Homo sapiens: one gene and its partners. The protein of the gene in region 1 purifies or fractionates together with the protein of each later gene. This does not show direct contact. Each region holds a gene or a part of one and is shown in the gene's direction. Other genes may lie near its edges.

Region 1 (4,474 bases):
GCAAAAGAAAATGAAGACACTACATATTAACATCTGACTGTTGTGACCAGAGAAGAGCTTGAAAGTAATTCAGAGTTTTATGAATGTTTATTTTTAGAGACAGGGAAAGAAATCACATTGTTCAAACAGATAATTGAAAAATAAAATAAAATAAAAAAAGGTCAAATGGGAAGCTGAAAAATAAATAAGAGTTGACTCTTTTAAAACAATAATAAATTAAACAAGCAAAAATCGACGCAAATTAAAATTGGAAATTACAAAGGAAAGAAACAACAATCAATAAACAGTTATTAAACAAAAAAGGTTTTAAAAAATTATGATGAAGTACTATGCACAGTTGTTTGGCAATATACTATATGTAAATGTGTATTTAAATAAATTGGCATTCTCCACACAAATTAAAAGTTCATAAACAAGAAAAGTTTTAAATGGCCAATAACTAGGGAAAAATTAAGATTTTTAGTCAATCCAATTCCCAAAACACATGACTTAATACATCCATTTCTTTTCAAACTTTGAAGAAGTAATTAATGCTCGTGTTTTATACATTTTTCTGGAACATATAAAAAGTATCAATTTTAAAAAAAATGTAAACGTTATCCTACTCTCAAATCAGATTAAGACTGCATAAAAGTCAAGATCTTTCTTTATAATACTGATACTATGAAAATACTTGAGAAATATTTATAATGTAATATTGAAAAACAATTCAAAATTGTGGAAACACTATAATACAGTTATGACAGTACAAATGTGCATAGGCAAATAAAAAAAAATGACAAATACATTAATTTTAATGAGACAGAGTAATTGGTAATCTTTTATTTTAAAATATTTTTCTTATAAAATTTTTAACATTGCCTGGTAAAAACATAGATTAGATGCCTACGCAATTTTCCCAGTGTGGTGAGTCTTCTGAAAATGCATGTTCTTTTCAAAAGTGACAAAATATAAAGCCAGAGTGAATAGCATGCCTGTAGAGTTGATTCTTTTCAAAGTTAAATATCTCGGTGGCTTGTTTTTATTAAAGCATTCCAAAGGCACTTGGTCCATAGTATGGACTATTCATTTGCCAAATTCTATTTTTAAATAAAAGCCTATTTTTTTTTTTTAGTTATGCAAGCAATGAGAAAGCAACCTAGACATGTAAACTTCTGGTTTTACATGCGTGTGCACCAACTTAAAAAGGGCAGACTAAATGATTTGTTTTTATGGTTGGAGAATTAAGAAAGGCTGGTGGCCTAAGACTGATCTGCTAGGTTTCAGGTCAAAACAATCAATGGCTGTCTTTGGTGGGAATTGAGTGACAGTGTTGCTGCAATCGTAGCTGGGTTACCAGGCATGTATAAATAGTAAAACAGGGGATTTCAAGAAATACTTTCTGAGCAACTGCTATGGTTTTCTCTGGCATATAACCTTCTTCTGAATTCTTTCAATTCCATCTGGTTATATCTTTCTTTCCTCACCTAAATAGAAATTTTCTAAGTCTGTATTAACACCCCCTCCCCCAGTGCTACAGTAGTACAAAGATTTTGAACTTTCAAATTTTTTAAAAGAACACTTTACAATTTATTTGTTTTTGTTACAATTTATTGCTGAGGAACTTTTCTTTTTTCCTTTTTTTTTTTTTTTTTGAGATGGAGTCTTGCTCTGTCGCTCAGGCTGGAGTGCAGTGGCACGATCTCGGTTCACTGCAACCTCCACCTCCCAAGTTCAAGCAATTCTCCTGCCTCAGCCTCCTGAGTAGTTGGGATTACAGGTGCGTGCCACCACATTGGGCTAATTTTTTGTATTTTTAGTAGAGACGGGGTTTCACCGTGTTAGCCAGGATGGTCTCGATCTCCTGACCTAGTGATCTGCCAGGCTCAGCCTCCCAAAGTGCTGGGATTACAGGCGTGAGCCACCGCGCCCGGCTGCCAAGGAACTTTATCCAATTATTCATCCATTTTTGTTAGAGTAGCTGTCTTGTGATGAGTTTTATTAAATATATGGAATCAAATAGCCAATTGAGGCCGGGCATGGTGACTCACACCTGTAATCCCTGCACTTTGGGAGGCCGAGGCAGGCAGATCACCTGAAATTAGGAGTTCGAGACCAGCCTGGCCAATATGGTGAAACACCGTCTCCACTAATAATACAAAAATTAGCTGAGCGTGGTGGGAGGCGCCTCTAATCCCAGCTACTCGGGAGGCTGAGGTACGAGAATCGCTTGAACCCAGGAGGCAGAGGTTGCAGTGAGCCGAGATTGTACCACTGCACTCCAGCCTGGGTGACAGAGTGAAATTGTGTCTCAAAAAAAAAAAAAAAAGCCAGTTGAAAGTTGGTGTGAGAAAGGATAATGTATCACTGAATTTTACTTCACTTATTTTTATTAAATTCTAGGGGGCAGAATCTTGTAGATTATAAAGTAGTAATCCTAATTGAAGATATTACTAGAAACATCAAAGCAAATGCAAACATATTTTTATTGATTTTACATAGACATTATTTCTCTGTAATCCACAGTCTTTGGCTTCATGCCAGGGTCATAGCAGGCTCTCACTACAAATGGGTTGAAACATTTTTGACAGCAGTAATTTTACCATTGCAATTGATCAGAGTTATTAAGGTCATTGCATCTAAATGTAATTAATACTCAAAGGAAATTTAGTCACTCAGTGTCATCTGTTGAATTAAGTCATCTAAATTAAAATTATAATTTGTTTTTATCATGTGAGCTTAGCGAATGGTAATTTTCAGATGTTTGACTGAGTGAATTTCCTTACAAACTGATGTCCAAGCCTCTAGCCCCCAGGTGGTCTGCTCTCTCTGCTCTCTGTGGTGCCAGGATAAGGACCCCCGGTGTAATATCCACCTCCATTCCTGTTGAACCAGGGCTCAGATTCTCCAGATGGAACCGTTTTTGCCGCCTTACAGAGTGGGTTCTCACTGGAACCTTTTCTAACTTGAATTAGACTTTGACTTTACCCTCAGAACCAAGCCTATGGAATTTCTTTCTCTACTGAAGGAGGAAAGAGGATTCTAAGAAAGAGTAAATCAGGCAAGTCTTGAAATAAAACCTGTGGAGTTCCCCTCTTGTTTTGCTCGACTTGAGGACAAGCCCTTGTTGCATTTTTCCCTTTCACAGATCACAGATGATCAGTTTATAAAGGCCTAGTGCAGGCCAGGAGCGGTGGCTCATGCCTGTAATCCCAGCACTTTGGGAAGCCGAGGCCAGTGGATCATCAGAGGTCAGGAGTTCGAGACCAGTCTAGTCAATACAGTGAAACCCCATCTCTACCAAAAATAAAAAAAAATTAACTAGGCATGGTGGAGCGCGCCTGTGATCCCAGCTACTACGGGGAGAGAGGCAGGGGGATCACTTGAACCTGGGAGGTGGTGGAGGTTGCACTGAGCCGAGATCACGAGATCATGCCACTGCACTCCAGTCTGGGCAATAGAATGAGACTCTGTCTCAAAAAAAAAAAAAAAAAAAGGCCTAGTGCATTAGAATGGTTGCTCTATGAGCCCCATGGCTCTGTCAGCATATACTTTATAAATTTATCCTGCTCCCAAGAGTTTGAATGTTTAAACTTCATTTTGTTACACTCTCTAAAATCCCTCTTAATTAGACACATCTGGTATAAAGCAAAGCATCTAGGCAGATAGGAGTGTTTTCTATGTTAGTATGAATTAATCGGGCTAACTTCCCATCTGCTTGATGGAGGTGAATATCCCTGGGAAGAAATGAAGATTTTGATTGAGAGAAAAAAGAAGTCGTTTATTGGTGCATGGGACACTCTGGGAGGTAGTATCCATTTGGATGTCCTGCTGCGGTTGGAGACATGGAACAAAACGAGAGAACAAGCCATTTTGGTTACTGGGGAAAGAGGAACAAGGATGTAGAAAGTTTGGGAGGATAACAAGTCCAACTGCCATCTCCAAACCATTTTTCTTGGCTCATAATGACCCTCAGGGGAGAAAATGTTCTTTTTTCTTTTTCTCTCTCTTCCTGCACACTGTGTGCCTTAAAATTTAAGCTGGTATCAGTAGTAAAATCTAGATATGCTCATGAGTTCAATAAACCATTGGATCTGCGTGGGCTTCAAGCTTAATTTATGACATAGTTTCTTTGGAGAAAGGTATTCTGTTCTAAACAACCAATGTAACAAGCTTCTGGGACACAGTCCATTGGTATATGAGGTGCTGCTCCTATGTGCATTCATTCCACATGCAAAAATGACAATTAAGAGCCACTCCATGAAAGCTCTGGCTTAGACTCACTGGAGCCCTGTGTTTGGTGCTGGTCACTCTATCCATGAAACCATATTTAAACGAACCAGAAGAAAGGTTTAAAAAGATGCCTTGGCAGATCTTTTTGAGCAGTGAATATTCCCCCTGACAATATCTGTTTCCTTCATTTCAGCTTTCGTTTTGGGGGGTAGCTTAAAAAAGTCTTACGGCGGCATCAAGAGCCATCTGTGTTAAGGGCCCT
Region 2 (4,474 bases), on another chromosome or scaffold:
GTCATGTTTTTCCTTAAAAACTTTATGCACCTTCCCATTTGTATAAGGCAGTTGGTATTATGTATCAGGATGGTATTATGTATCTTGGTACTTTCTACACTGGCTAACAGTAAATCTTGGCTCCTGGGGCATGCAGCGTCATTCACGGCATTTCCTCTTGGTGCAGGTACTGAACGACACCTGGGTCTCCTTCCCTTCCTGGTCTGAGGACTCCACGTTCGTCAGCTCCAAGAAGACACCGTACGAGGAGCAGCTTCACCGCTGTGAGGACGAGCGCTTCGAGGTGTGTGTGCTGCTGTGGCCGGGTCCCCCGGCATGTGCCTGTTCCCCTTCTCCATGGGACATGCATCCTGATCCTCCTCCACTGCCCCAGTCTCGTTTGGAGGAGCAGGAATTGCAGCACATTCCAACAGCTCCTGGAAGCTTCCTGCCGGGTCTTGCTGGCCTTTGGGCTGGCTACCAGATGGCACTTTTCTTTCTGTTTAAAAATTTTGTTTGGGCTGGGCGTAGTGGCAGACACCTGTAATCCCAACACTTTGGGAGGCCAAGACAGGTGGATCATTTAAGCTCAGGAGTTTGAGACCAGCCTGGGCAACATGGCGAAACCCCATCTCTACCAAAAATACAAAAATTAGCCGGGCGTGGTGGCGGGCGCCTGTAATCCCAGCTACTCGAGAGGCAGAAGCAGTAGAATTGCTTGAGCCAGAGAGGCCGAGGCTGCAGTGAGCCGAGATCACACCACTGCACTCCACCCTGGACAACAGAATGAGACCCTGTCTCCTAAAAAGTTTCTTTAATGTAAAAATTAAATTTATTTTTATTTTATTTATTTATTTATTTTGCTTGCTCTGTTTCCCAGGCTGGAAGTGCAGTGGCGTAATCATGGATCGCTGCAGCCTTGACCTCCCAGGCTCAAATGATCCTCCCACCTCAGCCTCCTGAGTAACTGGAACCACAAGTCCATACTACCATGCCCAAGTTGTTTTTTTTACTTTTTTTGTAGACATGAAGTCTCACTGTGTTCCCGAGGCTGGTCTCACACTCCTGGCCTCAAGCGATCCTCCCACCTTGGCCTTCCAAAGTGCTGAGATTAAAGGAATGAGCCACCACACCTGGCTAATTTTTTTTTCCTTTTTTTAGAGACAGGGTCTGTATTGCCCAGGCTACATTAATTTTTGTAATTAAAAGTTTTATTGGCTGGGCACGATGGCTCACGCCTGTAATCCCTGCACTTTGGGAGGCTGAGGTGGGAGGACTGCTTGAGGCCAGGAGTTCAAGACCAACCTGGGCAACAAAGCAAGAGCCCATCTATACAAAAAAAAAATTTTTTTTTTTTTTTGAGACAGAGTTTCACTCTGTCGCCCAGGCTGGAGTCCAGTGGCATGATCTTGGCTCACTGCAACCTCCACCTCCTGGGTTCAAGCGATTCTCCTGCCTTAGCCTCCTGAATAGCTGGGATTACAGGCACACCACCATTCCTGGCTAATTTTTTTATTTTTAGTAGAGACGGGGTTTCACTATGTTGGTCGGGCTGGTCTCGAACTCGTGACCTTGTGATCCGCCCATCTCAGCCTCCCAAAGTGCCAGGATTACAGGCGTGAGCCACCGTGCCCGGCCATAAATTTTTTTAATTAGCCAGGCATGGTGGTGCACACCTATATTCCTAGCTACGTGGGAGGCTAAGGTGGGAGGATTGTTTGAGCCCAGGAGGTTGAGGCTGCAGTGAGCTTTGATTGTGCCACAGCACTCAAGTCTGGGTGACAGAGCAAGACCCTATCTCTTAAATACACACACCCCCCCCCCAAAAAAATCCTCTGGTCTCTGAGGTCCCAGGCTCCTCTCTGAGGCCTCTTGAGTTCCCCAGTGGCTGACCCCGTCCTGCCTTCCTTTCCATAGTTAGACGTTGTCCTGGAGACGAACCTGGCCACAATCCGTGTGTTGGAAAGTGTGCAGAAGAAGCTGTCTCGGATGGCGCCGGAAGACCAGGAGAAGTTCCGGCTGGACGACTCCCTGGGAGGCACGTCGGAGGTGATCCAGCGCCGTGCCATTTATCGCATCTATGGCGACAAGGCCCCGGAGATCATCGAGAGCCTCAAGAAGAACCCTGTCACCGCTGTCCCCGTTGTCCTGAAAAGGTGCCCTGTGGCGTCCCGACTTCCCTTCCCCTTCCCCTTCCCCCTTCCCTCCCCTCCCCTCCCCTCCCCTCCCCACTGCAGGGAGCCCTTGGAGAGCTCATTAGTGCTGTTTGTCAACAGGTGTCATCTCCAGGGGTGGTCTCTGAGGCCTAAGGGTGCCTTCCTGTATTTCCCAGTCTCCCACTCCTGAGAGGAGAGCACTGTGACCTTCTAGGACTTTCCACCTTGCACATAATACATCTAGACATCTAAATAACTGCTTTAAGAGTCAGATGCGACCACTACACTGTGGCTTGCATTTTATTTAATGCTGCATTTCGGATGCCGTCCGGCGCTAGTTAACAGGCATTTATCAAGTGGTCACTTTCAGGCAGGTGCAGTGCTTGGCCCTGGGATTATGCAGCTGAGTGAGGCAGACCCAGTCCCTCTCTTGGGACTCACAGCTGAGCAGGGGACCTGAGTGGTTGAGCCAACAGCCATGCGGAGAGTGCTGGGTGCCAGGGAGGAGGTGGAGGAACCGGGAAGCCGGCCACATTGGCTCTGTAAGGCCATCACGCCCTCCCTCTGACGTGCACAGAGCCCACTGCACAGACTAGGCTGGGAGCTGGCTGGGCCTGGGTCCTGGACCCCCAGTCAAGTCCCAGAGGAAGACAGGCCAGCCCTGGGATGCTTCAGGGAGGATGCCCTGGCTTGTCCCTGGTGCTGACCTCTCTTCCCCCCGCAGACTGAAGGCCAAGGAAGAGGAGTGGCGGGAGGCCCAGCAGGGCTTCAACAAGATCTGGCGGGAGCAGTATGAGAAGGCGTACCTCAAGTCCCTTGACCACCAGGCTGTGAACTTCAAGCAGAACGACACCAAGGCCCTGCGCTCCAAGAGCTTGCTCAACGAGATCGAGAGCGTCTACGACGAGGTAAAGCCTTCCCTAGCCCTGCCGGCCGGTGGGGGTGGGGTCCTGGCTCTCCCGACCGCCGGGTCTGTGCCTCTGTTTCCCTGGTGGTTAGGCAGGGTAGTGGCATTGCCCTTTCAGGGCTGTGTTGAGGCGAGGGTTCATGTCTCTGTGATGCCCAGCCTGTGGCCTGCCCTAGGAGAACCAGCAACTCTGCCATTGTCTATCTGTTTGTTTGTTTGGAGACAGAGTCTCGCTGTGTTACACAGGCTGGAGTGCAGTGGTGTGATCTCAGCTCACTGTAACCTCAGCCTCCTGGGTTCAAGTGATTCTTCTGCCTCAGCCTCCTGAGTGGCTGGGACTACAGGCGCACACCACCACACCCAGCTAATTTTTATATTTTTAGTAGAGATGGGTTTTCACCATGTTGGCCAGGCTGGTCTTGAACTCCTGACCTCGTGATCCACCCACCTCAGCCTCCCAAAGTGCTGGGATTACATGCGTAAGCCACCGCTCCTGGCCGACTCTGCCATTGTCTAGCGAAGTCTCCGTCCCTCCCGTGGGGCAGTGATGGACTTTGGCTTAGGTAGTGGGTGGCAGCAGCCTTCATTTCTTTCTTGCCGACTGTGCCAGGCACCGGTGTTAGCAACACAGAAAGAGTAATGCATCATCTGACCTCACTCCTGAACCTGACTCTGCTGCGGCATTATTCTGATTTTACCAGTGGGGAAACTGAGGCACAAGAGGTTGCATTTGCCTGGGCTGGTCGCAGGGGGCCAGGGCTCTGAGTCATTGGGTTCGAGGCTTTCGGCTGCATGTCCTCACTGCAGGCTCACAAGGCCTGAGTCATAGAACCAAGGCCAGCGGGGCCCTCAGGTTGCCAGGAGCTGGGCCTGTTAGTAGCTGTGTGTAGGGAGTGCCTGCTTGCAGGATCCTGAGGTGGGAAGCTTGGCAGGGTGCCGGGCGTGGTGATAGCCAGCTGTCGGGAAGGTCCTTGGACACTCTGAGGAGGTGGCTTAGGAGGGCACACTACTCCCCAGGCAGTGCCCAGATCATGGCACGGGCTGCGTTATCAGCCTGGTGCCCACCTGGGCAGGGGGTGTTGCCTCACCTGATTTGGTTTCTTGCTCCTGTCACTGCACAGTGAGCGGTCGCTCCTTCTTTTACAACACAGAAACGGAATCCACAGGAGCCGGGCTGCTGGCCCAAGGCCTCTCCCAGAGCCTGTGGGACTGTGGGGACCCCCTTCCCTCCCACCTCCCTTCCCGTGGGCCACCCTCGCCCCAGGCCCACCCACAACCACTCTGGCTTCCTCACTCTAGTCCTCGGCGATCCTCAAGCCCAAGACCCCGTATAGGTTCTGTGGGTCTGTGGTGTCTGCAAAGTGCAGATGATGAAGTAGCCCTGGAAATCCACCAATGCGACCCTGAGTTCCTGGATCCCTCCCTGGGGCTG
Region 3 (4,474 bases), on another chromosome or scaffold:
GATCCTTAGAAAATCTTTACCTATATCCTTGAAGTTGTTTTTTGTTTTTTTTTTTTTTTTGGATAAAACATTAAAATATAGTCAGATTAGAGTAGTTCAATACTTCCTTATAAATGGTTTTTCTTTATTCTGTTTAAAATATACAGACTGTTGATTTCATTGAGTGGTGACTCAGCTCTTACATTTCATTCTTCAGCCAAAACTTTTATTTAAAGGTGAAAGAATCAATATTTGTAAAAAGATCTTTTAACCTATGTAACTAGTTAGTACTAGAAATGAGATTTTTTTTTCCCTCCGTTCAAGTTTTTTTTTTTTTTTGAAGATGGAGTCTTACCCTGTCACCCAGGCTGGAGTGCAGTGGTGTGATCTTGGCTAACTGCAACCTCCGCCTCCTAGGTTCAAGTGATCCTCCCACCTCAGCCTCCTGAGTAGCTGGGAGTACAGGTGTATGTCACCACACCTGGCTAATTTTTTTGTACTTTTAGTAGAGACAGGGTTTCACCATGTTGGCCAGGCTGGTCGCCCAACTCCTCACCTCAAGCGATCTGCCCACCTCGGCCTCCTGAAGTGTTAGGATTACAGGTGTGAGCCACCACGCCCAGCCTCAAGTTTTTTTTTAAACCAAAAAGCAGTGTATGAAAAGATGAGTTCTACTTTGTGAGTGATACTGAATCACAAAGTTCATTTGTGGTTTATAAGCCAGATAAGAAGGGCTTACCCACTAGACAGATGACTTCCTCCTACACATTACCAGCCTCACAAATTCATACTGTGGCAGAATTGAAAGTTTCTACATGATAGTAGAAATTGCAGTTTTTAAATTCACAAATATCGAGGATCTCTGTTTGTACTTGTAGTTGCAGTTTCTAGAATCTTTTCGTTTACATGAAAATAAAAAATTTCATGCCTGTTATTTCTCACAAGATTTTTTATTGGAAAAAACTCCATTTTAAGTCTAAGGCCCCAATTTTTTTTAACCTCCACCCTTAAAAAAAAAAAAGTCTCACTATATGTTGCTTATTGTAGTTGATGTTATTAAGACTATATCCTAGGGAATAACTCACATTATTTTAAAACAAATTTTGGCAGAGTCTCTTGTGGTAGGCCCCTCTAAAAGAATTTTAAATGTTGTGGAAGAGAATTTTGAATTAGTAAGTTATTTCTGGGATAAAAATTAGTGGTCCATCTCTTACTTACTGGTTAAGTCTCCTTTATTCTAAAGAGCATATGTATTTAAACAAATCATAGGTCAGTTACTCAGGAAAATTGATTTAACATTTCTGTATATTTTACATTTTACTTTGTTGTTTTTAGTCAGTGTTTCCTTCATGTATTTCTGAACATAATCAGTATAGGCTCTGTACCAATAAAAGTGTTTTAGGTTTTTGTGGGTTTGCATTATTCTGATTTAGAAATAGCAAAAATATATTTGTTCTTTCTAATGGCTCTGTTTGCATTAGAAATGAACTAATCATAAAAACGTGAGATAATATAGTAGAAGGCTATTTCAGGGAACTTCTAGAAAACCATTGTTTTCGGTTCTTTTTTATGAAATGATTGGTCTAATGCATTATTTGTGTTTGGGCTGTTTTGTGGAATACAAGAAGAAATTTTAATAGTTATTAAGTATAAGGTGGTTAGTGTATGGTACATGACTCAGCAAATATATGTTATGCAGCTTGAATTTGTGGAGGGTGTGCAGGTAGTTATTGGGTCGTGTATTCTATATGGAAACTACTATGTCAGTTTGCTGGTAGAGGGAGAATTGCTGTCTTTCAAAATATGAATTATAGGCACTTAATATTTCTAAATATTTTTGTTTTTTTCTTTTTAAATATTTCTTAATAGTATGTGGTGGTTAATATTTTCCTTAAACTTAGATAACCTTTAATTTGCTTATATAGCCAAGTTTTATTTTAAATTGGGTAATTGAGTATCCAACTTAAATACGAATCACCCGGGTGGGCTATAGTTAAATTCTGGAGACACAGTGGGAATTTCAGGCCCAAGATGTAGAAATTACTTAGGTTTGTCAAGTGGCAACAAGTGTATTTTCTTGGAAAGCTATGTACCTAGAGCCCAGACTAGACAGTAGTTGAACTATTAACTCAGTTTAATAATTTTCTAAGTTTGTTGACTTCTCTGACACTAGCATTTCCAAAGCAGTTATATTTATTTTTTTAAGCTTTTTCAGATATGGGTAGTTCTAAAACTGTATAGGTTAGATTGAATGTATGAATGGTTGGTAGCTAAAGAAGATTGAAAAGAGAGGGAAAAAACTACCAAAATGTGTAGCTATAGCGGGATACAGGAAAATACTTAAAGTGCAGAATAAAAAACCAGAGAATGGCATAATTCTTTGCGGGAGGACAGGAGGAGAAAACTCTCCAGAACTCTCCAGGAAGTCAAGAATTTGTCCTGGATTTAAAGAAATTCATAATATAATCCCGTCTATATCTTTATAACTTAAGTGTCACATACTAACTTGATTTCAAAATGTTGAAACTAAAGTTTGTGACTATTGCCCAGGCTGGAGTGCAGTGGCACAATCTCGGCTCACTGCAACCTCCACCTTCAGGTTCAAGCCATCCTCCCACCTCACCCTCCCAAGTAGCTGGGACTACAGGTGTGCACCACCCTGCTCAGCTAATTTTTGTATTTTTTGTAGAAATGGGATTTCACCATATTGCCCAGGCTGGTCTCAAACTCCTGAGCTCAAGCGATCTGCCCACGTGGGCCTCCTAAAGTGCTGGGATTACAGGCGTGAGCCAGTCTGCCTGGTGTGACTTTTCTTAAGATTTACAGATTTTTTGTATTAATCTGTTATTAATGCATGTTTCACCTAGAATATAATGCCAGTATGTCCCTTTTTTCTTTGCTAATATGACATCTTAGAAGAATTGTCAGCTGTACTCCCAGTGAAGTCTTCTGATACAGTGTTCTTTATAGATATCTGTTGATTTTAGTAGAAATTTTAAAAGTTAAGAATTCTAAAAAGTAGATAATTATACTTTTATCTCAAGGAAATGGGGATAAGGAAACAGTGGGAAAGGAAGCAATAATGAAATAGCCATTTCATATATTGTACAGCATTGTTAATGTGGGTATTGTCTAAAAATGTGTAGGTTAGATTGAGTATAGGAAGGCTTGGTACCTTAAAGAAGATTGATGGGACAAGAAGGAAAAAAAAACTGCAGTACCTGTGAGATTTACTTAGAGCACCTTCTCTAGGGGAAAAAACCCAATTATATTGTTGTATTTAACTGCTTAAAATAATTTAGTAGGTTGGAGGCTAGGTTGGTCAGTCTTGTACCATTTTATAAAATGGGATTTAGCCTTACTAGATTTTTTAAATTTTGGTATATTCTAAACAAAAAGTTTCATACACTATTAAAATATGCTAGAGAGAAACAGTATTATACATGTATGTGGTTTTGATATTTTTTCTTTGTTTTTTTCAGAGTGCTGCTGCTACAGCTGCTACCTTAGCACTCCCTGCAGGTGTGACTCCTGTTCAGCAGATATTAACAAATTCAGGTAATTAGGAATGATGGAACCATTTTAAAATGTAATTCAGAAAATTGTACTATCTAGCCCTTAGGTTTTGTCTTCTTTGAAAGACAGAAAATACTAATATTTCTTTTACCATTTGGTTTAGGTTATTAAAATAACTTTATTTGAGGGCTGTAACACATATAACTGTAATCGTTGTTGAGGATACAGTAAAGAAGATGAAAATTGTACTTGAACCTTTGATCTGTGCATGATAACCCTATTATTGAAGTATGATTATATAAAAATGCTTACTTAGTTTTTTACTGAACACATTTAACATGCCAAGTGAGTATTAAACTTCTTTGAACTTGTGATATCAAAGTAATTCCTAGAGCATATTAAGAGCAAATTTATTGTATGCTATTATTATACATAGTATCTCTTCATTGACAAAAGACCAATGTCTAGCTCATGTGTTTTGGCATATTGGTGCTTGAAAAATTTATTTACATGGATTTTAAGTGTTCCCTATAATCTTGATTATATAGTTATTATTTATTTTCTATTCTGTGTATGTTATTTTTGTTAATTTGTAAATTTGTGAAATTAGGGGCTTGTCTTGCTACATATTTTAATAAGATGTAATTTGCTTTTTAATCAATTCAAGATTCTGGGTTGTCTAAAGGAACATATTGGGGGAATTTGATTCTGTGTGAATTGTATGACAATGATGATAACTGGTTCTGTGAACTTTTATTGCTTTTACCAATTTTGAAGCAAAGTTCTTTGGTGCTTTGTTTGGTTCAAGATATTAAATGAGCTATTAAGCTTTTGTTCCTTTAAAGCTTTAAAAATGAACAGCTCCCGAAGTGTCTGATCTTACTGCTCTTTCTTCACTCCTAAGGTTAGCAAAGATAATGTAAGCTTTAGTCAAGTCTCATAATCTGTTGTTAAAACCTTGTTGGAAATAGCTGAATGA
Region 4 (4,474 bases), on another chromosome or scaffold:
GCAATATCTTATAAAATTAAATATACACTTACCACACCACTGAGCAATCTCATTCCATAGGTATTTATCAAAGGTAAATGAAAATATATGTTTATACAAGGACTTATATTCACATGTTCGTAGAAACTGTATTCATAATAGCCAAAACAGGGTTCTCACCAAATGTCTATCAGATGGTGACAGGATAAGCAAATTGTTGTGTGTCCATCCGTGCAGTGGAATGCTACTTGGCAATAAAAAGGACCAGACTACCAGTATACACAACATTATGGATAACCCTCAGTAACATTACACTAAGGAGAGAATCCAGATACATAGGACTACAGATGGTATGATTGTGTTATGTGAAATTCCAGAAAAGACTATGCCATAGTGACAGAAAGCAGATCAGTGGTTTCTGGAGAATAGAGGTTGTGGGGAGGGAATTGACTGCAAAGGGGTGTGAATGAACTCACTGGAGTAACAGGAAATGATCTGTATCATGATTGTGTTATACCGCTGTATACTTTTGCGAACACTTATCTAATGTTACACAAAGAATTAGTGAATTTTATATGTAAATTGTACCTCAGTAAAGCTAATTGATTAAAATGGACAAAAGATAAACATGCACTTCACTAAAGAAGATATATATGAATGGGCTGGGATCACATAAAAAGATGTTCAACATTACTAGTCATCATGGAAATGCTAATTAAAACTACAGTGAGACACACACTACAACCCACTAGAATGGCTGTATATCAAGCAATGAGTAAGGAAGAGGAGCAGCTTGTATACTGCTAATGGGAACAGGCAATGCTACAATCACTTTGGAAATGACTTCGGCAAAGTTAAACATATACTTACCATTTGACCCAACCATTCTGCTCCTTGGTGTTGCTGAGGATATTTGTAAAAAAATTATTGAACTTTTCTTGTAAACCAGTGGTGGTATTCTATGTAATCTATTCCCCAATAAAGAGGTTTTATAGATCAAAATTTTAAAAATTCTGAATGACCTGGGAGAAAAGTCAATATATAGTGAAAAAGAAAACGTATATCAGTCTTTTCTTTCCTCTCTGTTTTTTTGTTTTTTTTTTTTTTTGAGATGGAGTCTTGTTCTGTCGCCCAGGCTGTAGTGCAGTGGCGCGATCTCGACTCACTGCAACCTCCACCTCCCGGGTTCAAGCAATTCTGCTGCCTCGGCCTCCCAAGTAGCTGGGACTATAGGCGCCCGCCACCATGCCCAGCTAATTTTTGTATTTTTAGTAGAGACAGGGTTTCACCATATTGTCCAGGCTGGTCTCAAACTCCTGACTTTGTGATCCGCCCGCCTTGGCCTCCCAAAGTGCTGGGATTACAGGCTTGAGCCACCACGCCCGGCCACATCACTCTTTTCATCCAGCACTTGTACTTTTAGGAATTTTTTCCTGAAGAGATCATTGGACAAGATTGTTGATAAAAGCAAAAATTTGGAAATAACCTAAAAGCCCATCAATGATACAGTGATTTTAAAAGCTATAGTACATCTATACAATAGAATCCCATTTCACTTTTTTTTTGAGACAGAGTCTTGCTTCGTTGCCCAGGCTGGAGTGCACAGTCTTGGCTCGCTGCAACCTCTGCCTCCTGGGTTCAAGTGATTCTTCCGCCTCAGCCTCCCGAGTAGGTGGGATTACAGGCAACCGCCATCATGCCCAGCTAATTTTTGTATTTTTGTGGAGACGGGGTTTCACCATGTTGGATGATGGTCTTGAACTCCTGACCTCAGGTGATCCACCTGCCTCAGCCTCCCAAAGTGCTGGGATTATAGACATGAGCCACTGTGCCCGGCCCCATTTCACCTTTAAAAAATGATGCAGTATTCTCTACCCAGTAGTTCTAATCCTAGGTATATATTGAGTAGAAGTGGTACATATGTTCACCAAAAGACACGTACAAGAACATTACTAGCACTATTCAAAATAGGAACAAACTGAAAACTAAAGTGCCTCTTAAGAGTAAAATGGATAATTTGTACGTTACTCGTGTGTCGTACTATATACAGCATTGAGAATGAAAGATCTACAGCTGTGTACACTAATGTGAATGAATCTCATACCTGTAAGTGAAAGAGGCAAAGCACAATAGGGTGTATTTGTTATAAGTCTGTTTACGTAAAGTTAAAAAACAGACAATACTAATCTATAGTGTTACAAGGTAGAAGATTGATTTCCTTCGGAGGATAGTGGCTAGAATAGGGCCAAACTAAGGGTCTCTGGGGGACCAATAATGTTTTCTATCTTGAGCTGGGTGCTATTTACTCAGGTTTATTCAGTTTGTGAAAGTCCATTGAGCTGCACAGCTAACATTTGTGCACTTATCTTTATGAAAATCATACTTCAAGAAAAAAAAGTCAAATGAATAAAAACCCAAAATTTAAAAGAAGCGAGAACTGTCACCAAAACTTTAAGTGTTGGTGCCTTTGTGGGGTAAGTTTGGGGGCAACATTACTTTGTTTATGGTACTCCAAATAATTTAAATTCTCTACATAAGTAAATATTATCTTTATGCTCAGAAAAAAAATTATTTTGGAAAAATTATAGACAAATATGAGTTAATATTTTCACAAGCTCTTCCTTTATTACATCAGTATTGTTCTCTGATTTTTTTCCACTTAATTTTTTTTTTTTGACACAGAGTTTTGCTCTTGTCCCCCAGGCTGGAGTGCAGTGGCAGGATCTCCCAACCTCCACCTCCCGGGCTCAAGCAATTCTCTGGCCTCAGCCTCCTGAGTATCTGGGATTACAGGTGTGCACCATCACACCTGGCTATTTTTTTGTATTTTTAGTAGAGACAGGGTTTCACCATGTTGGACAGGCTGATCTCGAACTCCTGACCTCAAGTGATCTCCCCACCTTGGCCTCCCAAAGTGCTGGGATTACAGGCGTGAACCACCACGCCCGGCCTCCACTGAATTTTTAAATACTTAATTTTTAAATAGGCCAGGTGCAGTGGCTCACACCTGTAATCTCAGCACTTTGGGAGGCCAGAGGTGGGAGGAACACTCGATCCCAGGTATTCAAGACCAGACCAGGCAACATAGTGGAACTCTTTCTTCATAAAAAAATAAAAGAATTAGCCAGGTGTGGTGGCATGTGCCTGTAGTCTTAGCTGCTTGGGCAGCGGAGGCAGAGGCTCACTTGAGTCCAAGAGTTTGAAGCTGCAGTGAGCTGATATCCTGTGACTTCGTTACAGCCTGGGAGACAGAGTGAGACCTTGTCTCAAAAAAAAAATTTTTTTTAATTAAAAAAAATTTTTAAATAGATTGTCTTCTGGTAGACCAAAACACCAAAAGAAAAAGAGCATACATTGGAAAATATCTCTCCTATCTCTGTCCCTCAGTTTTGAAAAATTATATGTTCTTAAAGTTAGGAACCGTACTTAAAATATCTTTTTTTTTTCTTTTTTTTGAGATGGAGCCTCACTCTTGTTACCCAGGTAGGAGTGCAGTGGCGCAATCTCAGCTCACTGCAGCCTCCCATCTCCTGGGTTCAAGTGATTCTCCTGCCTCATCTTCCCTAGTAGCTGAGATTATAGGTGTGTACCACCACGCCCGGCTAATTTTTTTGTATTTTTAGTAGAGACGGGGTTTCACCACGTTGGTCAGGCTGGCCTGGAACTCCTGACTTCAAATGATCCACCTGCCTTGGTTTCCCAAAGTGCTAGGATTACAGGCTGTGCTCAGCCCCCAACCACCTTTTTTTTTTTTTTTTGAGACAAAGTCTCACTGTGTCATCCAAGCTGGAGTGCAGTGGCACAATCATGGCTTGGCTCACTGCAGCCTTGACCTCCCAGGGTTAAGTGATCCTCCTCCCTCTGCCTCCAATATAGCTGGGATTACGGGTGCATGCCACCATGCCCATTTAATTTTAAAATTTTTTGCAGAGATGGAGTCTTACTGTGTTGCCAAGGCTGGTCTTGAACTCCTGGGTTCAAGGGATCTGTTTGCCTTGGCCTCTCAAAATGCTAGGATTGCAGGTGCAAGCCACTGCACCAGCCATCCTTTTTTTTTTTTTTTTTTTTTTTGGAGACAATCTTCCTCTCTCGCCCAGGCTAGAGTGCAGTGACGGAATCTTGGCTCACTGCAACCTCTGCCTTTTGGGCTCAGGTGATCCTCCCACCTTAGCCTCCCAAGTAGCTGGGATTACAAAAAAACGTGGTTTTTGGTTTTTGGTTTGTTTTTTTTTTTTTTTTTTGTATTTTTAGTAGAGATAGGGTTTTGCCATGTTGGCCAGCATAAAATATCTTTTTAATGTCAGGCTTTTATAACTTTCTAAGAGGATGTTTTAAATGAAATTGTCTTACATCCTGTATTGTACTTTTAACTATTTCAGCTCATTTTAGATGATTTTCAGGTAGTTTGTTCATAAGGCTACAATATCCAGAATAAATTCTATATTCCACAGTTGTGGCTCTTTTGTCTGATGTCCATCAGGAGAATCCAGTGCCC
Region 5 (4,474 bases), on another chromosome or scaffold:
TAGTCATTCTTGTCTAGAGCCAGCTTCTGTGGTCCTGAAACCCAAGGGTTAGTTCAGGTGGTGTCATAAGCCAGTGTTAAGTTGCACAGCTATGAGCATTTGAAAAAGTGACAGTGTAGGCTGGGTGCAGTGGGTCACGTCTGTAATCCCAGCACTTTGGGAGGCGAAGGCAGGGGGATTGCTTGAGGCCAGGAGTTCAAGACCAGCCTGGGCAATATAATGAGACCCCATCTCTACAAAAAATATTTTAAAATAAATAAATAAAAAATAAGAAAGAAAAGTGACAGTGTGAATGCTCCCATTGTTTCCTCAGCCAAGATGTTCCGAAGGGTGCTCACCATCGTGCAGGCCCACTGTAAGCTGGGTTTGACTGCGACCCTCGTCCGCGAAGATGACAAAATTGTGGATTTAAATTTTCTGATTGGGCCTAAGCTCTACGAAGCCAACTGGATGGAGCTGCAGAATAATGGCTACATCGCCAAAGTCCAGTGTGCTGAGGTAGCTGGGCCTGGGCTGGGGGCGTCTGGGAAAGGGCCTCCTCCTATGGGCAGGGGAGTGATCAGATCGATTCCTCATGGGCAGACACAGGTCAGGACTTAGGCTCACCTGCTACCACTTCATACAGGATCCTCAGTCACCCTGTGGTTGGGTGGTACTAGACCCACTTGCTGCATATCTTCTGTCTTGTCACATATCTCACATACCCCTGAATTTGTGATGATTCTTTTTCCTAGCCATGGGGTTTACCAGTCATGGATTTCTGTGGGTGAGGATTAGCATTCAGGGCACAGGGATGAATGAAGGCCCCTGATACCACAGTGCTGCCTGGGAGCCTGGCAGCAAAGGGCTTTGCTCTGATAGCCCCAAGCGCCTAACTGATATGCTCCCAGCCCTGCTGGGAAGTGTGTGAAGAGGTGGCGGTACTCAGTAGCAGTGCTGACTCGTGTGTGGAAGTGTGGCTTAAATGGAAGAATTGCTGACACTACCAATTGAGAATCTGGTTTCGCACACTTGCAGCTGGTGTGAAAATAACTCCCTGGATGTGATTGCATTTAAAAATCTTTTAAGTGGTTAACATGTGAAAACGTCCAGTTCAATAGGAGGTATTAGGTTGGGTTTAGTTTTGTGCATGCATTTATTTTCAGTTGTACTGATTTCTAATTCACATAGCATTTTTTTTTTTTTAAAACAGGGTCTCACTCTGTCACCCAGGCTGGAGTGCAGTGGCGTGATCTTGGCTCACTGCAACCTCCGCCTCCTGGGCAAGTGATTCTCCTGCCTTAGCCTCCTGCGTAGCTGGAATTACAGACATGCACTACCACACCCAGCTAATTTTTGTATTTTTAGTAGAGACTGGGTTTCACTGTGTTGGCCAGGCTGGTCTTGAACTCCTGGCCTCAAGTGATCTGCCTGCCTCAGCCTCCCAAACTGCTGGCATTACAGGCATGAGCCACTGCACCTGACTGGTTTTGTTTTAAAGCTAATTCTGCTAGAGAAAGGTCTTCAAAAGTTTTAAATTGTGTGGTGTTTAAACTTGTAAAATGACCCCTGGTTCTTACTGTATTACAGGTCTGGTGCCCTATGTCTCCTGAATTTTACCGGGAATATGTGGCAATCAAAACCAAGAAACGAATCTTGCTGTACACCATGAACCCCAACAAATTTAGAGCTTGCCAGTTTCTGATCAAGTTTCATGAAAGGAGGAATGACAAGATTATTGTCTTTGCTGACAATGTGTTTGCCCTAAAGGAATATGCCATTCGACTGAACAAGTAAGAATTGAAAACTTGGAGCTTCCTCCAGGCCAGTTTCTCTTCCCCATTGAGAGTGCAGAAGGTGGCTGTTGTTTTGTTTTTTTGTTTTTCTCTCAGGAACTTCTTGGGCTCCAAAGATCTTGTTCTGTGGCCCTGGTCTCAGAAACCAGGGAAGACCTGAAGTAGGTGGTTGGAGTCAGAGGTTAGAGCATAGAGAAAAGGGGGGCTAGTCACCTTGAGCCCAAAGAACAGGGAGCAGAGACTTGGACTGAGCTGGGTGGGGCCCCATGGAAGATCTGGGCTCCAAAGGTGGGTGGGAGTTGGCATTTGGAGCTTTGGGCTGTGTGAGCTCTGTGGGTGGAGAGGAGGCCAGACTGGATGGCCTAGGGGCTGGGAAGGCAAGATGGGCTGGGCTGGCATCCCAAGTACGGACTGGCATCTGGAAGGAGCTTAGAAATGCCCACGCAGTATCCTCATCAACCCATGGCTCCACCCAAATATTTGTGCTTAAAACCTGGCTTTTGTAAAGCTCTGCCAAGTAAGGAGGAAGAGGTCTGCGCTTGCTCCTACAGTGACACAGGACTTCAGGTGCTGTAAGTGTTGCAGAAGGCCAGGCCCTCTATGGAGACAGGTCAAGCTATGTGCTATGGGTACTATACATAGGTTTTACTTAATCCTCACTTCAGCCATATAAAATGTTGTTCCCATTTTATAGAAGGGAAGACAAACTCATAGAAAGATTAAATTTCTTAAGTTTCTAAAATTATACCTTTATTTAATTTAGAAAGACTTTTTAATCCAAGTCAACATTTAGATTATTGTGAAAAACAGCAATTCCCTGCTTCTATTTTCCCACCCACAATTCTATTCCTTGAAGACAGCCGCTTTTGACTCTTTTTTGTTGTTTACCTTCATATTTCTTTCTTTCTTCCTTTTTTCTTTTTTTTTTTTTGGAGTTAGGGTGTCACTGTGTCACCCAGTCTGTAGTGCAGTGGTGTAATCACGGCTCACGGCAGCCTTGACCCCCTGGGCTCAATCAATCCTTCCACCTCAGCCTCCCGAGTAGCTGGGTCTACAGGCACGCACCACCACACCCAGCTAATTTTTGTTTTTTGTAGAGATGGGGTTTTGCTATGTTGCCCAGGCTGGTCTCAAACTCCTGAGCTCAAGCAGTTCCTCCTGCCTTGGCCTCCCAAAGTGCTGGGATTAGAGTCATGAGCCACCACACCTGGCCAGCCTTCATCTTTCTAAGCAATAGCTTATGTAGTAATTTCTTGATGATCAGTTATAGAAATTGCCTATTAACTTCCTACTGTAGGAGTTGAGGGTTTAGCTTTCTTACATACACCACTCTCCCCACTCCTGTTTTCTCTCCTACCATTCTCCCAATATGGGAATAGCACAAGTTGGGGGTTACTTTAATATTCAGTTACATTATTTTGACTGTGTAAGTATGTTCAGGCAGAGCTGTAGAGTACTATTACATTTTCCTTTTTTTTTTGAGACGGAGTCTTGCTCTGTTGCCAGGCTGGAGTGCAGTGGCGCTATCTCAGCTCACTGCAACCTCTGCCTTGTGGGTTCAAGTGATTCTCCTGCCTCAGCCTCCTGAGTAGCTGGGACTACAGGCACCCGCCACCACAGCCTGGATAATTTTTGTATTTTTGGTAGAGATAGGGTTTCACCATATTGGCCAGGATGGTCTCGATCTCTTGACCTCGTGATCTGCCTGCCTCGGCCTTCCAAAGTGCTGGGATTACAGGTGTGAGCCACCATGCCCGGCCTTACATTTTCTTTTTTGTAAATGTTTTTTTGCCTTGGAGTTAATAATTGCCTTGTCATTGTTTTTGCTTGGTTTTCTGTGCATTGAATAATTATTCCCCTCCAAAGTCTTCACATAACCATAAACTCAGTAGGGTCAGGTAATTTCTCAGTTCTGTTTTTCTGTTTCCCCAGTGGGATCCCCACCAGCACTCCATTCGCTTACTCTGTTCTGGCCTGCTTGCTGTCTAGGACTAGAGACACCACCAGCTGTTACCATGGGGTTTCCCTTGGACACTACCCCATGACTTCCCTGGGCCTCTTTGTTGTGTTTCCCACCCTGAAATCTCCACCCTCTTGGTTACTCATTTTGATGGAGCACATGTTCCAGTAGGTTCCTGAGAGAAGGGATGTAGGAGGAGAAGCTTTGGAGACTTCACATGTTTACAGATGTCTTTACTCGACTTTATACTTGATCAGTAGTTTGGCCAGGTCCTAGAACTAACATTGGAGCTTCCAGTGCAGCAGTTTGGCAGTCTGATGCCCTTTGCTTCCTCTCAGTGTGTTGTCTGCTGTGGTGGCTGTGCGTTTTCCTTCCCTTGAAAACTGGTAGGATCTTCTCTCTTTTTGGAAATTTGAAAGTGATATTCTTAATGTTTTTCTTTCATCGTGATGGGCACTCAGTATATCCTTTCCATCTGGAAACTCGTGTCCTTCAGTTCTGAGAATTTCTGTTTTTTTGTTGTTAATCACTTTCTCTATGTAGTCCCTTCTTGGAATTTTGATTCATCAGATGTTAGATCCTCTGAACAGCTTCTCCAGTTTGCTTATCTTTTTTCTACTTTTTTATCTCTTTGTCTTCTAACCCTTGTATTGAGACTTGTTAATTTCTGAGAGTTCTTTCCTGGTAACTGTTCTTGTTTTGTTTGTGAATAGAGTGTCTTCTCGGAGGCTTTGAAAAC
Region 6 (4,474 bases), on another chromosome or scaffold:
ATTAAGTGAGGCTTCAGGAAGGAATATTGGATTTTCTTTCTACTAAATTGTTTTCACTCAAGACTCAGCAAGAGAAGAACCGTTTATAGTGTACATTGAATATTTGACACATGAATATTTCATAAGGCAACCGCCTGTTAGCACTCAGAGTGAAAATGACTGTGTAGGAATAGAAAGAGTAGGCGGGCCTTTGTCTGCAGATGTGGAGGAAACCGTTGAAAATCTGGCCCTTTCCCTCTGCCCCTCCCTGTGTCCCCTTTTCCAATGTTGGTTTACAGAATCTTGCTTTTGCCTTTAACGTTATTGTTATTTTACAAAGAAATGGACGTATTCGATTTCTAAGTGGTTTTCACCAAAAAAAAAAAAAAAAAGGTTTTGAGGAATGTTTTGAAAAAGAATGAAGGACTTTGGCCCCTCATATTGATCATTCATTTTGTTTTTAAGTGCTCTCCACCTGCCTGAAGCAAGAACAGCTCTTTTAGAGGCAGGTAAAGGCAGCCCAACTTTATGGGCCTTCAATTTTTCATGACTATGCAGCTTTCCTCTCTTCCTTTGTTAGAAACAAAAAGGGGGGGTCCCTTCCCCTCTGTTATCCAGTCATCTGCAAAGACCCCAGCCCTAACCTGCTGGATTGCACATTCACTACAGTAACTTTTGAACTTTCTCTGGAGGGAGGTTAAGGATTCTAATACCAGAAGGCTGGGCCTAGCAAAGAGCTATTTGAGGATAACAGCCCTCCTTTGTGCTCCTCTATCCGGTCGCTGCCTCGTTCTGGCCTATCATCCTCCAGGATGTCTCTGGTTTTTGCCTTTGCTCTCCATCTTTGGTGTCCCTTCTAGCATCACTGCCCCTCCAAAGCTCAGCCTCTTCATCTCATTCTGATTGTTGCTATAGCATCTCCCTCCGTATCCCCCCATCAGTCTTCCCAACAACCACCACCAGACCCATCCTGCGCCATCGCCCTCCACCCTCTGTGATAGCTCCTTCTGTTTTTCTGGATGTGCTACCATCCATTCTCACCTTTTAAATTCATCACAGTTGCCTGTGACCCCCTTGCCCATCTGTGCCTCTCCCAGCTCTCTGTGCTGTGATCTTTTCCCCTATTCCCTACCGTTTCTCAGTGCTTTATCAGACCCTGCTCCTCCTTAGCTTAAGCTTTACCTTTTCCACCAGTTTTGTGAGATCAGCCCACCCCAGCCAGAACTGTTTTTCTACTGTTATTTTTGCCCTCCTAGCCAGTTACTAGTCCTCAATAGACCATTTCTAAGACCTCTTTTGAAGCCCTCCCCATCCTCACCCCTACCTTAGTGTAGTGCTAGGCACATAGTGGGCTCTTGGTGAGTCCTGGGTGGTCAGGTGATGGATAACATTTTTCTCCTCTTCTCCCTAGGTTGATCTGTTCCAGCTGCAGGTGAACACCCTACGACGTTATAAACGACACTACAAGTTGCAGACCAGACCAGGCTTCAATAAGGCCCAGTTAGCAGAAGTAGGTAGACAAAATTGCCCTCTAAAGAGAGCCAGCATTGTGCTGCTTCTGATGGTTACCCTGATTCTCCCTTACCTTGTGTGTCTGCTAATTGTAATTTCCTCCAGAGTTCTGGAAGCAACTCTGTATTCCTCTTTGGCAATTTAGAACCCCACAGCTTTAGACCTGCAAAGGCCTCAGTTCCAGAAAAGAAACCATGGCACAGAAAGAGGAAAGGATTTGCTTAAAATCACACAGCAAGTTGATAGCAGAATTGAGCCTGGGATCTCATGACTCCAGATTCTAAGTCCTGAGTGTTCATTTGTTTGAATCTTTTTTGGAAGATTCCTCTTTTTGTTTTTTTGGAGACAAGATTTTGCTTTATCACCCAGGCTAGAGTGCAGTGGCTCAGTCTGGGCTGACTGCAGCCCCAACCTCCCAGCTTCAAGTGATCCTTCCCACCTCAGCCTCCAGAGTAGCTAGGACCACAGGTGCACACCCCTATGCACAGCTAATTTTATTTTTATAGAGATGCAGCCTCACTATGTTGCTCAAGTGATTCTCTTTGGCTCAAGCCATCCTTCCACCTCAGCCTCCCAAAGTGCTGAGATTACAGGCGTGAGCCACTGTGCCTGGCTTAGCAAAATGCTTTTTAGATATGATCATTTTGTGTGTCAGATTAATCATTTCAAAACCTTGATGTTCTACAGGAGCTATTTTTTTTTCCTTGATTTCTCCTACTCTGGTGTTGGTAATGACAGTATTTTAATGAATGGCACCCAAGAAAGTTTTCTCCTGCCCTGAGTTATTAACACAGTTTGGATTACGGGGAAATGCTCCACTGGCCATTTTTAAAATACATGAACTGCCTGGCTTGATAATTCTGTCTTTGTCATTTCTGCAGGTATTTTCTAATCCCTCTTTTCTTAATATATTTTTCTGCCTATTACAGAAAAGTTGGAAAATGGAGAAAAGAAAAATATAATTCTATCATCCAGAGATAACCACTCTTTATGTCTAGTTCTCTGTCTTTTTTTATCTGTTTCAGCCACCTTGATCCATTGAGATTTCCTGAAAGGCTTCCAGCCTGTTTCATTTTTGGTTTTTCCTTTAGAGGTTTCTTGCTCGACCGTCACTTTTTCTTAAACAACTCCTTCACCAGTGTCCAGATGACACACAGGAGGTCAGAAGCCTCTCCTACTTTAAAATAACATCACCCATTTGCCAGTGTTCTCCCTGGTGGAAGGGAAAGAATGAGGTGGGGCAAGAGGAGACCTGCATTCTCATTACTTATGGAATGAAGTATTAGGAGCATTAGTAAATGATGCATTTTCCTTCAAACCTGATATGTCTTTCAGGAGGCAGTTATGCACTACTTAGAAGAATTTTGGGGTTCAGATGCCTCTGTTCAATTTGTTCAATTGGCTGTTCATTTAACACAATTTTTTTTTTTTTTTAAAGACAGAGTCTTGCTCTATCTCCCAGGCTGGAGTGCATTGCTATGATCTCAGCTCACCACAGCCTCCACCTCCCGGGTTCAAGTGATTCTTCTCCATGTTTCCCGAGTGGCTGGGATTACAGGTGCCTGTCACCACACCCGGCTAATCTTTGTATTTTTAGTAGAGGCTGGGTTTCACCATGTTGGCCAGGCTGGTCTCGGACTCCTGACTTCAGGTGATCTGCCTGCCTTGGCCTCCCAAAGTGCTAGGATTACAGGTGTGAGCCACCATCCCCAGCCTAACCCAATTTTTATTTGTTTTTGAGACAAGGTCTTGCTCTGTCTCCTAGGCTGGGGTGCAGTCACAGCTCACTGCAGCTTCAACCTCCTGGGCTCAAGTGATCCTCCCACCTCAGCCTCCTGAGTAGCTGGGACCACAGGTGCATGCTACGACACCTGGCTAATTTTTTGGTAGAGATGAGTTCTCCACTGTGTTGCCTAGGCTGGTCTCGAACTCCTGGCCTCAACTAATCCTCCCACCTTAACCTCCCAAAGCATTGGGATTATAGGTGTGAGCCACCACGCCTGCCCCACAATTTTTTAAAGACACATTTCTTCCCACTTTCAAGGCCTGAGAGGTTTGGTAGCAGCTGGCCAACCAGAGCAGTCCCAGTCTCTCCTCCATGAGTATGACTGTGAAATCATGCCATGACAGGTGGTTGGCTGCCACTGAAATAGAACTGCACCTTGGAAGAGTTGTAGGTTAAAAAGCCACTTTTGGATCCTGGAAATTAAACCACCTACATCCCTGGGGAGGAAGGGCAAAGGGCACTCTGAGTTCCGCACATGGCAGGAAGTTCTTCAGCATTTGTCATTCCCGCCACAGCATGCAAACAACTCCATTCGCTTCTTTGTACAATGTAGAATTTGCGGTGTGATTTGTGCATGGTTTAAGGAACTTTGGTATTTTCCCCCCACATAGACTGTGAGTCGACACTTCAGGAACATACCTGTGAATGAAAAAGAGACCCTTGCCTACTTCATCTACATGGTGAAGAGTAACAAGAGTAGACTGGACCAGAAATCGGAGGGTGGCAAGCAGCTTGAGTGAGGATGAAGCACATCTTAAAGGAATGAAGTGTAATGCTTGATGCACAGGTGATATCTACTACATTTAAGCCCATAAAGACTGTTAAATATTATTGTAAATAAAAAAGTTTGAATGATGAATACTGTAAATCTTTTTGGTCAGGAGGATTATATTCTCATGATTCAGCATGTGTATAGAAAGACTTTCTTTTACGATAACTCTGGACTAAAAAAATCAGGATCATTAAAAGAATTAAAAACTATGTATTTCAGCATTCAACAAAGCATTAAATCAATTCTACTGGAAATGTGGGATAAGAAATATTTTGGTAATCACCTTATCCACCAGGCTGCCACGTGTGAGCTGTAGCTTGGAATAGCAGCAAGGTGCAATTGGCCATGGAAGTGCATGAGCAGACCCACATCTGGACTTGCATGCTGCCCGCTGGCGACATAGATATCCCGCCCGCTTTGTTGCA
Region 7 (4,474 bases), on another chromosome or scaffold:
CCTCCCATCGTGTTGAGATTACAGGCCTGAGCCATCGTGCCAGGCCACTTTTTTTTGAGACAGTAGCCACTTTTTTTTGAGACAGTATCTTGTTTTGTTGCCTGGGCTGGAGTGCAGTGGCATGATAGCAGCTCACTGCAGTCTCAACCTCTGGGGCTCAATCCATTGATCCTCCCACCTCAGCCTTCCAAGTAGCTGGGACAACAGGCACGTGCCACCACGCCCAGCTGATTTTTAAAATTTTTAGTAGAAACTAGGTCTCACTGTGTTGCCCAGGCTGGTCTTGAATGCCTGAGCTCAAGCATTCCTCCTGTTTCGGCCTCCTGGAGTGCTAGGATTACAAGAATAAGCCAATGTGCCCAGCCTTTTTTTTTTTTTTTTTAAGAGACAGGGTCTTGCTCTGTCGCCCAGGCTGGAGTGCAGTGGCATGATCTCGGCTCACTGCAACCTCCAGCCCCTGGGTTCAAGCTATTCTTCTGCCTCAGCCTCACGAGTAGCTGGGATTACAGGCGCCCACCACCACGTCTGGCTAATTTTTTTTTTTTAAGTAGAGACAGGGTTTCACCATGTTGGCCAGGTTGGTCTCGAACTCCTGACCTCAAGTGATCCACCCGCCTCGGCCTCCTAAAGTGCTGGGATTACAGGCGTGAGCCACCTTGCCTGGCCTCCCTTAGTATTTGATGATACAGAAAAAATTTCGGTTAAAATGGAATGCCTTGTGTAATTCAAGGGGAAATCTAAAGTGCATCAGAATTTGCCCTGAAAGAGTGAGATGTGTGTGAGTCTCAAATTCTGCCTACTCTCCTCCCCTTACAGAGGGTTGGGTTGTATTTGCAGCCCTTATTTGAGCGCTAAAAAGGTTATCACGCCCATGTGCTCACTTCAGCAGCACATATACCAAAAGGTTATTGTGCTTGTTATATGTTGGACAGTGTTCTTTCAGATCACAAATCTTGTTTTTATCACTGTTAAATTGAGGGTGTTTTTCAGGTAGAAGCAAAAATACTTGCTGAAATGTGATTTATATGTGGAACCCACCTTCAAACCAACTTGCTGAAGTTATGACTGCCTATAATCCATTAGGTGTGAGAGGAAAAAACTAACATGCCAAATGCTTTTGCTTCGTGTGTGCTGTGTATTCCCATCCAGCTGGGGCTGCCAGTAAATGCTGCCTTTTAACTTTTCTTTCTGAATTACTATTATTTCTCTGATCCTAAAAGAGTAGTGCTTTAAAAAATGACATGAAGGTTTATTGACTTAGTTCTTACACTGCTAAGCATATCTGCATAGAAAAACATGCTGAAGGCATAATCTTACTCTCCTGTAACTTACAATCTAATTGTAGAGTTGATGTAAGAGTTGTGTTTAATGCCATTTCTACATTGTGTGTGTGCTTGCCTGTTTATAATTGTCATTTATTAAAATCTGCTATCGTTGCAAGTTTTAGACGGATTCTGTAAAGATGGGATAACATGGGAGAATCTACAAAATTAGAATAAGATTGAGGAACACAGGGTTCTTTCTTGTTCCTTTCTGATCCCTGTGGCTGCTGGTGCATTTTAAGCCAGCAAGCAGACTTTACTTTCCTCTCTTCCCTGAAGGACATTAATGACCTTCCCATAACAGCCCAGCTAATTTCTGTGAGTAGGTTATTTTGGAATTGAGTATTGAATGTTTTTATCTGTTAGTGTGACTTTTTTTTTTTTATAGGATGTATCAGGACAAACTGGCTTCTCTCAAGAGGCAGTTGCAACAACTGCAAGAAGGTTGGTGTGTGATTGAATCCTGCATTTCTAAATATGCTTCTTAATATTACAAACCCTTGAAATCTGTGTATTTCACTTCTCTGTGGGAGTTATTTAAAACACGGTCTGGCTGATCTTAGCTATCCAGTACATTTTGCTATCTTTTGCTGTCAGTAAAGTGGTGATTTTCCAGCTCCTTGATTTTGAAACATTTATTTCCAGTATGTGTGAGATTCTTTCTTCAAATGAAATCTCACTTGGGACTTTCAATGGAGCACGAATTGAACGCCACTGTGCCTAAAGCTAGAGATTTTTAGGAGAGACATTGTTATCAAAGAATAAAGTTTTTACTGTTTTTTCTAAACCAAATGTTAATGACCTTGTGGATTATTCACACTGTGTTTTCTCCTTTTTGCTTGTTACATTAAAAGTAGATTGTATTTTGTCAAATGCTGCTAGCTGCTAAAGGCAGTGCAGCATCAGAGTTAAGAGTGCAGGCTGTGAGGCCAGGCGCGGTGGCTCACACCTGTAATCCCAGCACTTTGCGAGGCCGAGGCGGGTGGATCACGAGGTCAGGAGATCGAGACAATCTTGGCTAACATGGTGAAACCCCGTCTCTACTGAAAAATGCAAAAAATTAGCTGGGCGTTGTAGTGGGCACCTGTAGTCCCAGCTACTCTGGAGGCTGAGGCAGGAGAATAGCGTGAACCTGGAGGCGGAACTTGCAGTGAGCCAAGATCGTGCCACTGCACTCCAGCATGGGCGACAAAGCGAGACTCAGTCTCAAAAAAAAAAAAAAGAGTGCAGGCTCTGGAGTTTTGTGAGGGATTGGAATCCCAGTTTCCCTGCTTCTAGTAATGTGACCTTGGACATGCCAGTTTCTCTTGTTTAATCTGTTTTCTGATCTGCAAAATGAAGCAAGTAAGAGTAGATGTGATTATGCATGAGGAGCGTCTAGCACAGCAGTGTGCACACTGCAAGGTCCTGGGGACAGTTAGCTGTGGCAGTGAGCTCTTCGGTTTCATATTGTGGAGTCCCCTTGTCAGTGAAACTGTTTTTGCTTTTCTTTTTTTTTTTTTCGAGGCTGAGTTCCGCTTTTGTCACCCAGGTGGAGGGCAGTGGCGCGATCTCAGCTCACTGCAACCTTCACCTCCTGGGTTCAAGCGATTCTCCTGCGTCAGCCTCCCGAGTAGCTGGGATTACAGACGCCTGCCACCAGGCCCGGCTAATTTTTGTATTTTTAATAGAAACGGGGTTTCACCACATTGGCCAGGCTGGTCTTGAACTCCTGAACTCAGGTGATCCGCCCACCTCAGCCTCTCAAAGTGCTGGGATCACAGGCATGAGCCACCATGCCCAGCCTGATACTGCTGTTTCTACTATGTGCTTTTATTGCTGGTGAGTGATCCACGCCCTTGGACTAGCCCATGGTCAGGCATTATAATCAGGAAACACTTCCCCCCACAAGATGGGCCCCTCATAATTAACTGTTTTGTGGGAAGAGCAATGAAATGAATAGCGATTTGGTTAGAATCTATACCTGAATTGTTTAATGCTGTCACTAGCCACATGTGGCTGTTTAAATTTAATTAATAATTTAGTTCTTCGGTTCCACTAGCTACATTTCAAGTGCTAAAATAGCCACAAATGGTTAGTGCCTGCCATGTTGGACATTGCAAATATAAAACACACCATTGCAGAAGGTTCTACTGGAGAGCGTTGACCTAGACCTTACTGAAGGAGAATGAACCTTTTCCAGTAAAGGAAGGCCCGTTGATTCAGACTGTTGCAGCAACTGATCAGAATAGTGTGGAGATATTGGCAATTTTCCACTCCCCCTCACTCACTACAGACCCTTGATCCACTGGGTTGGGTAGACTTTGAATGGGCCCCTAGTGGTTTCTGCTGTGTGCCTTGGTTAAGAACCAGAGTTAACTTTGCTGAGGTGTGTCTTCCTTTGGTGTTACTGAAACAGTCAGTGTTGATGCTAGATAATAATTTTAGGAAGCAAAATGTAGAGCAGATTTATATTCACAATAATTTTATTTTTCAAATGTTCAAAATCAGGTACATTACAGGAATATCAGAAGAGAATGAAAAAACTAGATCAGCAGTACAAAGAGAGGATACGGAATGCAGGTAAGGCTCCTTTAAATGGCAATGAATCATCTTTCAATGTTTGACCATTTGCCGATCGTCGGTGTAATGCAGCCCTAAGAGCTATTCTCCAAAACATATCCCAGATACTCTGTCAGGGAGAGTTTTCAGAAAAGAGACTTCCAAGCTGCAGTTATGGAAAGTGGTTTCATCTTCTGCTTCTGTTGCTAAGGAATGGCCCAGAAGTGGAGGGTGTCTGAGGAGGCTCCTTGGAGTTAGGTTGTTCTCCCTGGTACCCCAAGAGTAGTCTTGCACCCTCTTGCTCATTTCTGCATGGCTGGCCTGATGTACAGTCAGAAGTGCGGATGAGGAAAAGGATTGTAGGTTGTTTTTGTCCCATTTTAAGTTTTTTTTTTTGGTATTTTGTGCTAGGATTGGGGAGGGTCTTCTTGTTATTTTCCCCAAGTATTGTTTTTATAAGAATTTAGAGAAAACGCACACTTGATTAGTTGTATACAGTAAATGTATTCATTCAACAAAAATGAATTGAGCACCTGCTACATCTAAGCACTGCGAGCAATATAAAGTCATGTAACACATTGCTTTGACTTTAGGACACTTGGTGTTTCATT

What was found.
Region 2: the proteins of MKX (region 1) and SIN3B purify together in Homo sapiens (affinity purification with mass spectrometry, with the first as the bait; one large-scale study listed by BioGRID). This does not show direct contact.
Region 3: the proteins of MKX (region 1) and GTF2A1 purify together in Homo sapiens (affinity purification with western blotting, with the first as the bait; one study listed by BioGRID). This does not show direct contact.
Region 4: the proteins of MKX (region 1) and SAP130 purify together in Homo sapiens (affinity purification with mass spectrometry, with the first as the bait; one large-scale study listed by BioGRID). This does not show direct contact.
Region 5: the proteins of MKX (region 1) and ERCC3 purify together in Homo sapiens (affinity purification with mass spectrometry, with the first as the bait; one large-scale study listed by BioGRID). This does not show direct contact.
Region 6: the proteins of MKX (region 1) and SAP30L purify together in Homo sapiens (affinity purification with mass spectrometry, with the first as the bait; one large-scale study listed by BioGRID). This does not show direct contact.
Region 7: the proteins of MKX (region 1) and SUDS3 purify together in Homo sapiens (affinity purification with mass spectrometry, with the first as the bait; one large-scale study listed by BioGRID). This does not show direct contact.

The regions. Positions count from the first base shown.
Region 1 is NC_000010.11:27,728,294-27,732,767, reverse strand, and holds part of MKX (homeobox protein Mohawk), read left to right. Parts: intron 1-4,474. UniProt on the Homo sapiens protein: May act as a morphogenetic regulator of cell adhesion.
Region 2 is NC_000019.10:16,863,514-16,867,987, forward strand, and holds part of SIN3B (paired amphipathic helix protein Sin3b), read left to right. Parts: exon of another isoform or gene 1-130; coding exon of another isoform or gene 131-166; coding exon 167-283; intron 284-1,896; coding exon 1,897-2,135; intron 2,136-2,859; coding exon 2,860-3,043; intron 3,044-4,474.
Region 3 is NC_000014.9:81,196,472-81,200,945, reverse strand, and holds part of GTF2A1 (transcription initiation factor IIA subunit 1), read left to right. Parts: intron 1-3,461; coding exon 3,462-3,537; intron 3,538-4,474. UniProt on the Homo sapiens protein: TFIIA is a component of the transcription machinery of RNA polymerase II and plays an important role in transcriptional activation. TFIIA in a complex with TBP mediates transcriptional activity.
Region 4 is NC_000002.12:128,018,060-128,022,533, reverse strand, and holds part of SAP130 (histone deacetylase complex subunit SAP130), read left to right. Parts: intron 1-4,474. UniProt on the Homo sapiens protein: Acts as a transcriptional repressor. May function in the assembly and/or enzymatic activity of the mSin3A corepressor complex or in mediating interactions between the complex and other regulatory complexes.
Region 5 is NC_000002.12:127,276,471-127,280,944, reverse strand, and holds part of ERCC3 (general transcription and DNA repair factor IIH helicase/translocase subunit XPB), read left to right. Parts: intron 1-313; coding exon 314-498; intron 499-1,569; coding exon 1,570-1,772; intron 1,773-4,474. UniProt on the Homo sapiens protein: ATP-dependent 3'-5' DNA helicase/translocase. Binds dsDNA rather than ssDNA, unzipping it in a translocase rather than classical helicase activity. Component of the general transcription and DNA repair factor IIH (TFIIH) core complex.
Region 6 is NC_000005.10:154,452,012-154,456,485, forward strand, and holds part of SAP30L (histone deacetylase complex subunit SAP30L), read left to right. Parts: intron 1-444; coding exon of another isoform or gene 445-462; exon of another isoform or gene 463-488; intron 489-1,390; coding exon 1,391-1,489; intron 1,490-3,888; coding exon 3,889-4,017; 3' UTR 4,018-4,474.
Region 7 is NC_000012.12:118,382,302-118,386,775, forward strand, and holds part of SUDS3 (sin3 histone deacetylase corepressor complex component SDS3), read left to right. Parts: exon of another isoform or gene 1-1,083; intron 1,084-1,710; coding exon 1,711-1,766; intron 1,767-3,812; coding exon 3,813-3,884; intron 3,885-4,474.